Homo sapiens: one gene and its partners. The protein of the gene in region 1 interacts with the protein of each later gene in a pairwise test. Each region holds a gene or a part of one and is shown in the gene's direction. Other genes may lie near its edges. The genes, in order: HSD17B4, CASP9 and EPHX2.

Region 1 (3,652 bases):
AAACTGATATCTAGTCCAGATATGTATGCCTGCCTGGACTGTCTGTCTTCCATATACAGTTCTCATTCTACCCGTTCATAGTTCTTTATCTCTTTAAGGATAGCTTTAAATTGACTTTAAGTAGATTTGAGTTGTGTGGGAATTTGTATTTGGGAGGGGAGACTATGACACCATGACTTCTGGAGGTTATATGCTCCCAGGTTCTTTGTTGTGTTTTTTACCCCTTTACCTAATGCCCATAAGGCTTTAAACCTCTATGTTGAAAGTGAAGTGCCTATAATCAGCAAAATTTTGTTTGAAATGTAAATAATTTTGAAACTTTTTTCACATACAAAAAAATTATTTTCTAAGCTATTTATTGCTAAATGAGTGATGATAAAACTGTATAAAATATGTACTAAATATTGATAGAATTTGAACATAAGCTCAGATATTAAACTTTTGCTTTTTCTTTTTCAGTACCATTAGATTTCTGTATCTAACTGTATGACAAGTATCATTTTTTTTTCTTGACCATCAGTAATCCTACTTTAGTAACATTTTCTGACTCTTTAGAAAAGGATATCTAGTTTAGTGCTCTTTTGGGTCCGTTTCTTTTAAGGGAAGCATCGATATTGTATTTTAGAACTATTTCAACATGGCTGCAAGTAAAATGCTTCCCATTGAGTCAGAAATTCGAGAACAATTGTGATAGCTCATGTGAAATTTGCCTATTTACTGTTCCTGTTTGTATTCTTTCTTAAAAAAACTGTACTGGATAAATAGGAAGAAGTAAATCATATGCCATATTAGATTCTGTTGTTTTGTAACCTATGGTAGGCATTGTGATAAAGAAAATTAAAATTCTAATTTTAAGCCTGAGAATGTGGTCAGTATAGAAATGTGATTTTTCCTCAAAATAAGGGTTGGCAAACCTTTTTGATGAAGGGCCATATAGTAAATATTTTAGGCTCTGTGGGCTACATAGTGCTTCTATTCTAGTACATATTCTTTCTCTTTTTCTTATTTTTAATCAACCTGTATAAACCATTTTAGCTCTTAGTCCTTGTTTGCCAACTTCTACTTTAGAATAAAAATGATTGAAAAATTGGACATTATTCTTTTATATGTACTTCACTTATTAGCTACGCATATTATCACTAAGTAGAAAAAGACAACATCCAGTTAGACAAAGGATATTCCTGGGAAGGAAATTCAAGTTAATTTTATTTTACTTAACATTATGAGGGACTGGGCGCAGTGGCTCACGCCTGTAATCCCAGCACTTTGGGAGGCCGAGGTGGGTGGATCACGAGGTCAGGAGTTCCAGACCATCCTGGCCAACATGGTGAAACCCTGTCTCTACTGAAAATATAAAAAAAAATTAGCCAGGCATGGTGGCACGGGCCTGTAGTCCCAGCTACTCGGGAAGCTGAGGCAGGAGAATTGCATGAACCTGAGAGGCAGAGGTTGCAGTGAGCCAAGATCATGCCACTGCACTCCAGCTTGGGCGAGAGAGCGAGACTCCATCTCAAAACAAACAAACAGAAACCATTATGAGGCAATCAAATTTACATCCATTAAGCAGTGTTTTACTCATCTGTTTACAGTGAACTTTATACATTAGATCTTACAAGCAATTTACTATCCTTAATAACAAATTCATTATTTTTTGGATTTTTGGGTAGCTAATAGTTGCTGAATTAGAGACAGGAAAGTTGAGTATGAGGCATACTGTCTGTTAGCAAGAAGCAAGCAATAAAAAACTTCTTAACTGTAAATGAAGTCCTTTTCTACACATTACCTAATTAGTTTCTATTAAAAAATAAAATATAATTGCAATAATTATGCTCCATCAAATTCACTAACATTCTAGTCACATCTATTCAAAAACAAAACTAGGTATGTAAGAAGTTAATAGTTTTGAAAAGTTATCAATGAAATAAATTACTTTTTAAAACTGTTCTTAGGCTGGAGCTATTGGCCAGAAACTCCCTCCATTTTCTTATGCTTATACGGAACTGGAAGCTATTATGTATGCCCTTGGAGTGGGAGCGTCAATCAAGGATCCAAAAGATTTGAAATTTATTTATGAAGGAAGTTCTGATTTCTCCTGTTTGCCCACCTTCGGAGTTATCATAGGTCAGAAATCTATGATGGGTGGAGGATTAGCAGAAATTCCTGGACTTTCAATCAACTTTGCAAAGGTATGCCTAATAAAAAACCTTTATTTTGCTTTTCTATTTCTGTAAATATTATTCATTAATGTCATATCTTATATATATGTGTGTGTAGTGTGTGTATATATATTTATATAATTATTTATAGTGGTTAGTTTAGCATATCTTTTGATTTTTCTTTTTAAGAATAAAAGAGGGGAGAGTTAGTTCAAAATGCCAGCAAAAAGAAGAAAATAACAAGTATGTGTAGTCCCATAACCCTGGCATAATGTTATTCTCTCTCTGCCATTTACTTGATTCTTGACCAAGGGTAAATAACATCTCTAGGCTTCAGTTTCCTTATCTATAAAATGGATATGATAATCCTCACCTCATGACATTGGTGAAGAAGCAAGCCAGGGAGGAGTATTTAAAGCAAATAGCACATACTTGACTTGTTTTTGGAACAGTAATAGGGCCAGCATAGCTGTAGAGTGAGCAAGGGGGCAATGGTAGGAGAAGGTCATGGAGTAATTGTAAAGATTTCAGCATATACTTTGATGAACATGTGAAGCCATTTGTTGATCTGAGCTGAGTAGTGACATGATCTGGCTATGTTCACAGACTGGTACAAGCTTGTTGCTTTTGGAGACTAGGTTATAAGGGAGTCAAGCATGAAAGCAGAGAAACCACTTAAGAGTCTATTATAGTAATCCAAGTAAAAGTGCTGCATATGAGGGTTAGAAAAGAGGAGTCAAGGATGAAGATGTTTGTTCTGGATAATTGGGATATGTATATATATATAGAGAGAGAGATGGGTGCATATATATACATTGTATATAGTTATACATTGTATATAGTTATACATTACACATATCTATATGTAATGTATAATTATGTATAGTGTATTTAATATGTATAGTAATTACATATGGCATTATGTATAATTTATACATACACATTTATTTTAAGGTGGGGTTGATCAGGAGTTGGTTTTAAATATGTTTGAGGTGTCTGTTACACATTTAAGTGGAAATATAAGATGGACAGTTGAATATATGAGTCTAGAGTTCAGGGAGGGGTCTAACTGGGTCCTTAGCATTTACGTGATGTTTAAATACTGGAGATTAGATGAAGTCACCTAATGTGTGAGAGTAAGTAGAGAAGAGGCCTGAGTTTAGAGGCCCTGAAATGTTGAGAGGGTAAAGAGATACAGAGGAACTAGCAAAAAGAGACTGCACAGGAATGGTTGGTGAGGTATGAGGAGTATCATGAGAATAGGGTATTTGAGAAGCCAAATGAATGAAGTGTGTCAAGAAGGAGGAGGGAACAGTGGTGAGAAGTTCTTTGAGACAGGGTATATTTTATTTCTTGGAGTAAGATTCAGGTTATGAGCCTGGTAATAATTTTTGAATCATGGGGCTATGAGCTGGTATCTGTAACTTTGACTGATTGGAGAACTTATTTACTGGTGGATCAGTTAGCCCATTGCTGCTCTGAGTTGATGGCCACTT
Region 2 (3,652 bases), on another chromosome or scaffold:
TCGCCCAGGCTGGAGTGCAATGGTACGATCTCAGCTCACTGCAACCTCCACCTTCCGGGTTCAAGCTATTTTCCTTTTTTTTTTTTTTTTTTTTGAGACGGAGTCTCGCTCTGTCGCCCAGGCTGGAGTGCAGTGCCGCAATCTCGGCTCACTGCAAGCTCCGCCTCCCGGGTTCATGCCATTCTCCTCCCTCAGCCTCCCGAGTAGCTGGGTCTACAGGCACCCGCCACCACGCCCGGCTAATTTTTTGTATTTTTAGTAGAGATGGGGTTTCACCGTGTTAGCCAGGATGGTCTCGATCTCCTGACCTCGTGATCTGCCCACCTTGGCCTCCCAAAGTGCTGGGATTACAGGCTTGAGCCACCGCGCCCAGCCAGGGTTCAAGCTGTTCTGCCTCAGCCTCCTGAGTAGCTGGAATTACAGGTGCGCACTACCACGCCCAGCTAATTTTTTTGTATTTTTAGTAGAGACGGGTTTCACCGTGTTGGTCAGGCTGGTCTTGAACTCCTAACCTTGTGATCTGCCTGCCTTGGCCTCCCAAAGTGCTGGGATTACAGGCGTGAGCCACCGCGCCTGGCAGGAGACTCCCCTTCGCGGTCTGCTAAGTAATGGGTGTCTCCCCAGACACTGGCATTACCGCTTGACCAAGGAGCCCTCAAGCGGCCCTTATGCGGGCCTGACAGAGGGCTCACCTCTTGCCTTCTAGGTCACTTCTCACAATGTCCCTTCAGCACCTGACCCTATACCCGCCGGTTATTCCTAAGTTATATTAGCAATGCAACAAAGAGTAATATTAAAAGCTAATGATTAATAATGTTTATAATAATGATTGATAATTGTCCATGATCATCTCTATACCTAATTTGTATTATGACTATTCTTATTCTAACTATTTTCTTTATTATACTGAAACAGTTTGTGGCTTCAGTCTCTTGCCTCGGCACCTGGGTAATCTTTCGCCCACAAAAATTCAGTTCCTCAGTTGTACTACCCAAGTGCTTAATGGTCATGTGATATATGGTTACTAAATAGGACAATACAGACCAAGAATATTTCCATCATCACGGAAGGTTCTCATAGACAGTGCTGCTGTAGGATAGTTGAGGACACGGTGCCATCTTATCCCTGTGGATCCTGAGAACCTGTCCAGTGCTGGGTATCTGAGGACAGGTGGCAGATAACCAGACTCTTCCTTCTTAGTGACTGACCCCACCATCCTGACACCTCTCAATTTTTTTTTTTGAGACAGGGTCTTGCTCTGTCACCCAGGCTGAAGTGCAGTGGTGCTATCACAGCTCACTGCAGCCTTATCTCCTGGGCTCGAGCCATCCTCTTGGGAGCCTCAGCCTCCTGAGTAGCTGGGACTACAGGTGCGTGACACCATACCTGGCTTTTTTTTTGTTATTTTTTGTAGAGACAGGGTCTCACTGTGTTGTCCAGGCTGGTCTCGAACTGGGCTCAAGCTATCCTCCCACTTCAGCCTCCCAAAGTGCTGGAATTGCAAGCATGAGCCACTGTGCCTGGCCTGCCTGTCAACCTTGACCCTTGCTCTGTCTTCACAGTCCCCCCAGTCAGTGCCCATGTCCTATGGACCCTCTCTCTTTGTATCTCTGCTTTGTCCTTTCACTTCTCTCTATTCTAGCTGCACCATCTTTGCTGCCTCCTGATCTGGCTATGGCTCACTCCTTTCCATTTTTCACCCTGACCCCTGGATGACTTTTTGAAAGGCCATATCTGTCTCTGTCACTCCATTCTTAAAACTCTTTGGTGGCCGGGCATGGTAGCTCACGCCTGTAATCCTAGCACTTTGAGAGGCTGAGGTTGGTGGATCGCTTGAGGTCAGGAGTTTTGAGACCAGCCTGGCCAACATGGTGAAACCCTGTCTTAACCAAAAAATACAAACATTAGCCAGGCATGGTGGTGGGTGCCTGTAGTCCCAGCTACCTGGGAGGCTGATGTGGGAGAATCATTTGTACCCAAAAGGTGGAGGTTGCAGTGAGCTGAGATGGTGCCACTGCATTCCAGCCTGGGTGACAGAGCAAGACTCCTCAAAAAACAAACAAAAAAACAACCGATGGCTGGCCACGGTGGCTCATGCCTATAATCCCAGCACTTTGGGAGGCCAAGGCTGGAGGATCACTTGAGGTCAGTTCAAGACCAGCCTGGGCAACATGGTGAAACCCTGTTTCTACTAAAAATAAAAAAAAAATTAGTCAGGTATGGTGGTGTGTGCCTGTAACCCCAACTACTCCGGAGGCTGAGGCAGGATAATCGCTTGAACCTTGGAGTTGGAGGTTGCAGTGAGCTGAGATTGCACCAGTACACTCTAGCCTGGGTGACAGAGTGAGACTCCGTCTCAAGAAAAAAAAAAAAAAACAAAAACAAAACCAAAAAACTCTTTGGTGGCACCTGACAGGTCTCAGGATGAATTTCTTGGCCTGGCCACACAAAGGCCTTGTCCCTTGCCACTATCTACCTCCCACCTCATAAGACTCTGAATTCGCTATTCACTTCATGATATCCTCAGCCCCATGTGCTTCCCTCTGGGCACTTGTCTCTTGTTGTGTCATTGCTGATTTGTCTGATTGCATTCCCCATTAGAAATTTGCTCCTTAAGGACTGAGACTGTCCATGGCAGCATTTTCAGCACTTAGCATAGTGCTGGGCATCTTTTGCCCTGCAAAATAATGAACAGATCAGCAAAGGCTGGTAAATGGCACACAGTGCACCTGCAGCTCCATTGCTGCCCACGTGCCTGATTGTTTAGACTTACAGTAGCTGGGAAATGGGGAGACAAGGTGAGAGCCATATAAAAGTACGTGGATAATTAGTATCCTGCCTTTCTTTCCAAACAGCGGGCAGGCTCTGGATCTCGGCGGGATCAGGCCAGGCAGCTGATCATAGATCTGGAGACTCGAGGGAGTCAGGCTCTTCCTTTGTTCATCTCCTGCTTAGAGGACACAGGCCAGGACATGCTGGCTTCGTTTCTGCGAACTAACAGGCAAGCAGCAAAGTTGTCGAAGCCAACCCTAGAAAACCTTACCCCAGTGGTGCTCAGACCAGAGATTCGCAAACCAGAGGTTCTCAGACCGGAAACACCCAGACCAGTGGACATTGGTTCTGGAGGATTTGGTGATGTCGGTAAGTAGCAAGAGAGTGATTGGTGGGTGGGCATGACACGTAGTCATTTGGGACTCACTATGAGTACAGCTGGGTGGGCTGAGATTCAGAATTTAATTTTAGCATTGTCTTTCTGAATGTTCATAGGGATGGCAAAATTCTGGGAGGTTTTCAGGAGGTTGAATCTTGGCAGCCCCTCCTCTGAAAAGCATGTGTTGAGGTCTGTTTTGGATGTCCCAGGTTTTTTGTTTTTGTTTTTGTTTTTTTTCCTGCCTTTGAGATAGCAGGCCCCAGGTTTTGATCAATGTTTCCAGAGCCATCTATTGTTTTGGATTTGCCTTTCAGTCTGGGTGGGTAGCCTGGACTACCTCATGTCTGGGGGCAGGAGACAGGCCTCAGTTGTATCTGCCCCATACAAACAGACATCTGCAAAGTATTTACCCTTACCTTCTTCGTTTATAGCAACCTTGCAAGGCAGGTATCATTAGACCCATCCTTGTTGATGGAGAAACTGACTGAAGCTCACGGAAAT
Region 3 (3,752 bases), on another chromosome or scaffold:
GTGCCACCATGCCCAATCTGGAGATTTAACAGGTTTCATACTATATAGGTCAGGCTGCAATTTTCTTTCTATTTTTTAAAATTCAATTATACCTTTGAGATCAACTAACTTCATGAGAAACTAGCTTGCTGTACTCCCTTCTCTGCCTATCTTTCAGTCTTCAAATCCAGAGTAATCCAGTTTCTACCATAAAGGGCCCACAAAAAGTGTTCTGAAACATCCGGTGTCATCCAAGTCCAAAATTGGACAGCTTTTTTTTCAGTTCTTCCTGTAACATTTGGCAGTGTTGGCCACTCTCTGCTTCTTTGGCAAGAATCTCAGAAAACACTAATAACTGCTCCAGGCAGGAGCCTGGAAGAGGTTACCAAGCTAGAGAAGGAAGCAACAGCATAGCTTGCTAAGGGCAAACAGCCCAGAGGAAACCCACGGCTCTGGTCAATCCTGTTGTTGATTGCTAGATCCAGAGACTGTTGTAGACCTCCCAGTTACAGTGAGGTATCTGACAACCCCTCACAAGGTTCTTGAAGCTCCGTGGTGGAGGGTATCTTGGATAAATCCACAGAGACACATTCAAGAGTAAATTCTCCACTGTTGGAGACCTCACTCACTCTGTTTGGTCTCCACCAAAGACACGGTTTTTAATTCATGGAGCTGCACTACAACAGCTCAAGAACTCCCAGCCAAAGTTTTAGTTTTTCTAGGAACATAAACGAGCCAATAGTGTGGAAATCGGTGATTAAAAACAAACCTCGCACATTTTAAGACAGAATTATTACAAGTAGCATGTACAAAAGGAAAATAATAGCCTACATTTAGTTCTTCTAAGCTTCATTCCACAAGAGATTGAAATCGAAGTATTCTGGGCTGGCACACGATAGCTGGAACATCATATTTTATTCTAGAAACACATTTGCCTTGGCAAAGAAGAGCGTGCCTAGAGGAGTGGTCAGGATAGTGAGGGATCTGTGATCCTTCGTTCTGAATCTAGAAAAGTCACTGGATATGCCCCTCCCCCGCCCCCCAACACGGTCTTATGTTCTGAATGTAGAAGTCACTGGATGTGCTGACACACACACACACACACACACACACACACACACACACACACACACACACACACAGAGTCTGTGGCCTCTTTCCCAGGCATTCCAAGTCCAGCAAGTTCGCAGGGAGCTGTCAGTCCGTCCAGGAAGGCCCGGGCCTGGGTTTGCCTCTTCAAGCAGCTACTGCAGGGGCGTGGGGAGGGGGCATAAGAGACTTTGGACTTTCCTTTGAGACAGTAGAAAGCGTTACATCCAGAGGCGAGATTCTAGCCTGGGGTCCCCGCCTTCCCGGCCTCCTCTTCCTCTCCCTCTGACTCCCTTTCCTGTGCCCCTCCCCCTGCCTCTTTCCCGGCCAGAGTCCAGCCTTAACCCGGGCAGAGGGCGGAGTCCCGTTAAGGGGGTGTGGGGAGGAGGCGGGGCCAGGGCAGGGGCGGGGCAGAGCCGGGCCAAGCTGGGCGGGTCATGCGCCCTGGCCTTCGCGCATCTCCCAGGTTAGCTGCGTGTCCGGGTGCTAGGCTGCAGACCCGCCGCCATGACGCTGCGCGCGGCCGTCTTCGACCTTGACGGGGTGCTGGCGCTGCCAGCGGTGTTCGGCGTCCTCGGCCGCACGGAGGAGGCCCTGGCGCTGCCCAGGTAAGGGGGCCCAGCGCCGCCGCCGCAGTGGGTCGGGGCCTCAGGAGGCAGACCGCGCTGGGCTTGCAGCCCAGCTTTCAGATTGCTCCTGTGCCGGAGCCCTGCGAATCATGCGAATCATGAAACTGAAGACCTGGCCCTGAAGTCCCAGTGCATATGAGGAGATCCGTTGTCTTTCTAAATGTTCATAATTAAACGTTGCCAAGGTCTCCAAAATTGCTTTCTGTGAACTTTTCCAAAAGGGAGAGGAGTTACTCATGGAGCTTTGTGCTTCTGCTGCCTCCTGTCTAATGGGGTGGCGCTTAAAGATGCGAGCCGAGATTCAGGAGAGAAGAAAGTTCTCTCCCCAGGTGTGGGTTGCATGCTTACTTGTGTAATAGCAAACTGCAGCAACCGCCCAAAGCCACATCACTGGGAAATGGTAGATGGGGTGTGCAGAGTGAGAGCTCAGGGACTTGGGAAAACACCTGTTCTACTACATGAAAAAACCACCCCACCAGAATCTGAAGCTATTTATACAATATGGTTTCAGCTATGGAAAAAAGGTACATGCAGAAAAGTGCCTGAAAGAAATAGGCCAAAGTACATCAAATGAGATTAGGAATAATGTAATGATTTTCTTTCTCTCTCTCTTTTTTTTGTGTTTTTTTTTTTTGTAGTTTCCAACTTCTAAATTTATAAACAATGTATTATTCCCACATTCAGAAAGGAGAGAAGTATACTTATTTATAAAGTGAAAAAGAAGGCCAGGCATGGAAGCCATTGTTCATATCCTCCTTTTACATATGAGGAAACTGAGGCACAGAAAGAAACCAGCTGTCCAAATCACATAGCTGTTAAAGAGCAGAGCCAGAAATCCAACCCCAGTAGTCCATGTCCGGAGCCTTTGCTTTTAATATAGTAAGGAAGATGAGATGGCAAGTAGCTTGAGGGAAAGGCATGTAATCTCTGTGCTTTGGGAAGCTAAGGTGGGAGGATCACTTGAGGCTGAGAGTTCAAGACCAGCCTGGGTGAAAGAGCAAGACCCTGTCTCTCCAAAAATAAAAATAAAATTAGCTAGACATTAGTGCATGCATGTAGCCCCAGCTACTTGGGAGGCTAAGGCAGAAGGATTGCCTGAGCCCAGGAGTTGGAGGCTATAGTTGTGTCCAGAGTTGGTTCCTGTCGGTGGGTTCGTGGTCTTGCTGACTTCAAGAATGGAGCTGTGGACCTTCGCAGTGAGTGTTACACTCGTAAAGATGGCGCAGACCCAAAGAGTGAGTGATAGCAAGGTTTATCGTGAACAGCGAAAGCACAAAGCTTCCACAGCATGGAAGGGGACCCCAGCAGGTTGCCGCTACTGGCTGGGGTGGCCAGCTTTTATTCCCTTATTGTCCTCTCCCATGTTCCATTTCTGTCCTATCAGAGTGCCCTTTTTTCAATCCTCCCCGTGATTGGCTACTTTTAGAATGCTGCTGATTGTGCGTTTTACAGAGCGCTGATTGGTGCATTTTACAATTCTCTTGTAAGACAGGAAAGTTCCCCAAGTCCCCACTCGACCTAGGAAGTCCAGCTGGCCTCACCTCTCAATCCTCCCTCATAACAGGACACCCCACCTGCTACTGGGAACTGGGTGATGACCACTCTAGCTACTTCCTGCTGGATAGGGGCAAAGAAGGGGCCCTGCCGTTGTAGTGTCCTCCAGAGGGGAACTCTCTAGGCCAGTCAAAGGGCCAGTGGGTCAGTCTAGCAGTCCTCGGTAGAAGTTGTGAGTTAAGCTCATTTGGGGTTCCATTTGTAAGACCATCTGTAGCTTGATGGCCTTGATCCTGGAGGAAACAAATTTGAGGAGGAGGTTAAAAATACAGGGACTGAAGGTGAGTAATAGCAAGATGGCTGTCACGGGACCTAGAAAGGGGAGAAGCCAAGTCACCCAACTCCAGAGGTTGGTATAAGAATTTGAAAGGTGTTGTCTGGTTTCAGAAGCCTTTTCCTGTAAATGCCAGGCAGCATCCTGTACTATCCCTGACTGGTTAGTTTAAAAACAACACTCCTCCCCTAAGAAGGTGCAAAGTCCTCCTTTCTCAGCAGTGAGGA

Evidence for each region.
Region 2: the proteins of HSD17B4 (region 1) and CASP9 interact in a two-hybrid assay, tested with the Homo sapiens proteins (one large-scale study listed by BioGRID and IntAct).
Region 3: the proteins of HSD17B4 (region 1) and EPHX2 come close enough for resonance energy transfer, tested with the Homo sapiens proteins (one large-scale study listed by BioGRID).

Annotation. Positions count from the first base shown.
Region 1 is NC_000005.10:119,497,368-119,501,019, forward strand, and holds part of HSD17B4 (peroxisomal multifunctional enzyme type 2), read left to right. Parts: intron 1-1,949; coding exon 1,950-2,186; intron 2,187-3,652. UniProt on the Homo sapiens protein: Bifunctional enzyme acting on the peroxisomal fatty acid beta-oxidation pathway.
Region 2 is NC_000001.11:15,517,599-15,521,250, reverse strand, and holds part of CASP9 (caspase-9 isoform alpha precursor), read left to right. Parts: intron 1-2,855; coding exon 2,856-3,141; intron 3,142-3,652. UniProt on the Homo sapiens protein: Involved in the activation cascade of caspases responsible for apoptosis execution. Binding of caspase-9 to Apaf-1 leads to activation of the protease which then cleaves and activates effector caspases caspase-3 (CASP3) or caspase-7 (CASP7).
Region 3 is NC_000008.11:27,489,634-27,493,385, forward strand, and holds the start of EPHX2 (bifunctional epoxide hydrolase 2), read left to right. Parts: upstream 1-1,509; 5' UTR 1,510-1,575; coding exon 1,576-1,676; intron 1,677-3,752. UniProt on the Homo sapiens protein: Bifunctional enzyme. The C-terminal domain has epoxide hydrolase activity and acts on epoxides (alkene oxides, oxiranes) and arene oxides. Plays a role in xenobiotic metabolism by degrading potentially toxic epoxides.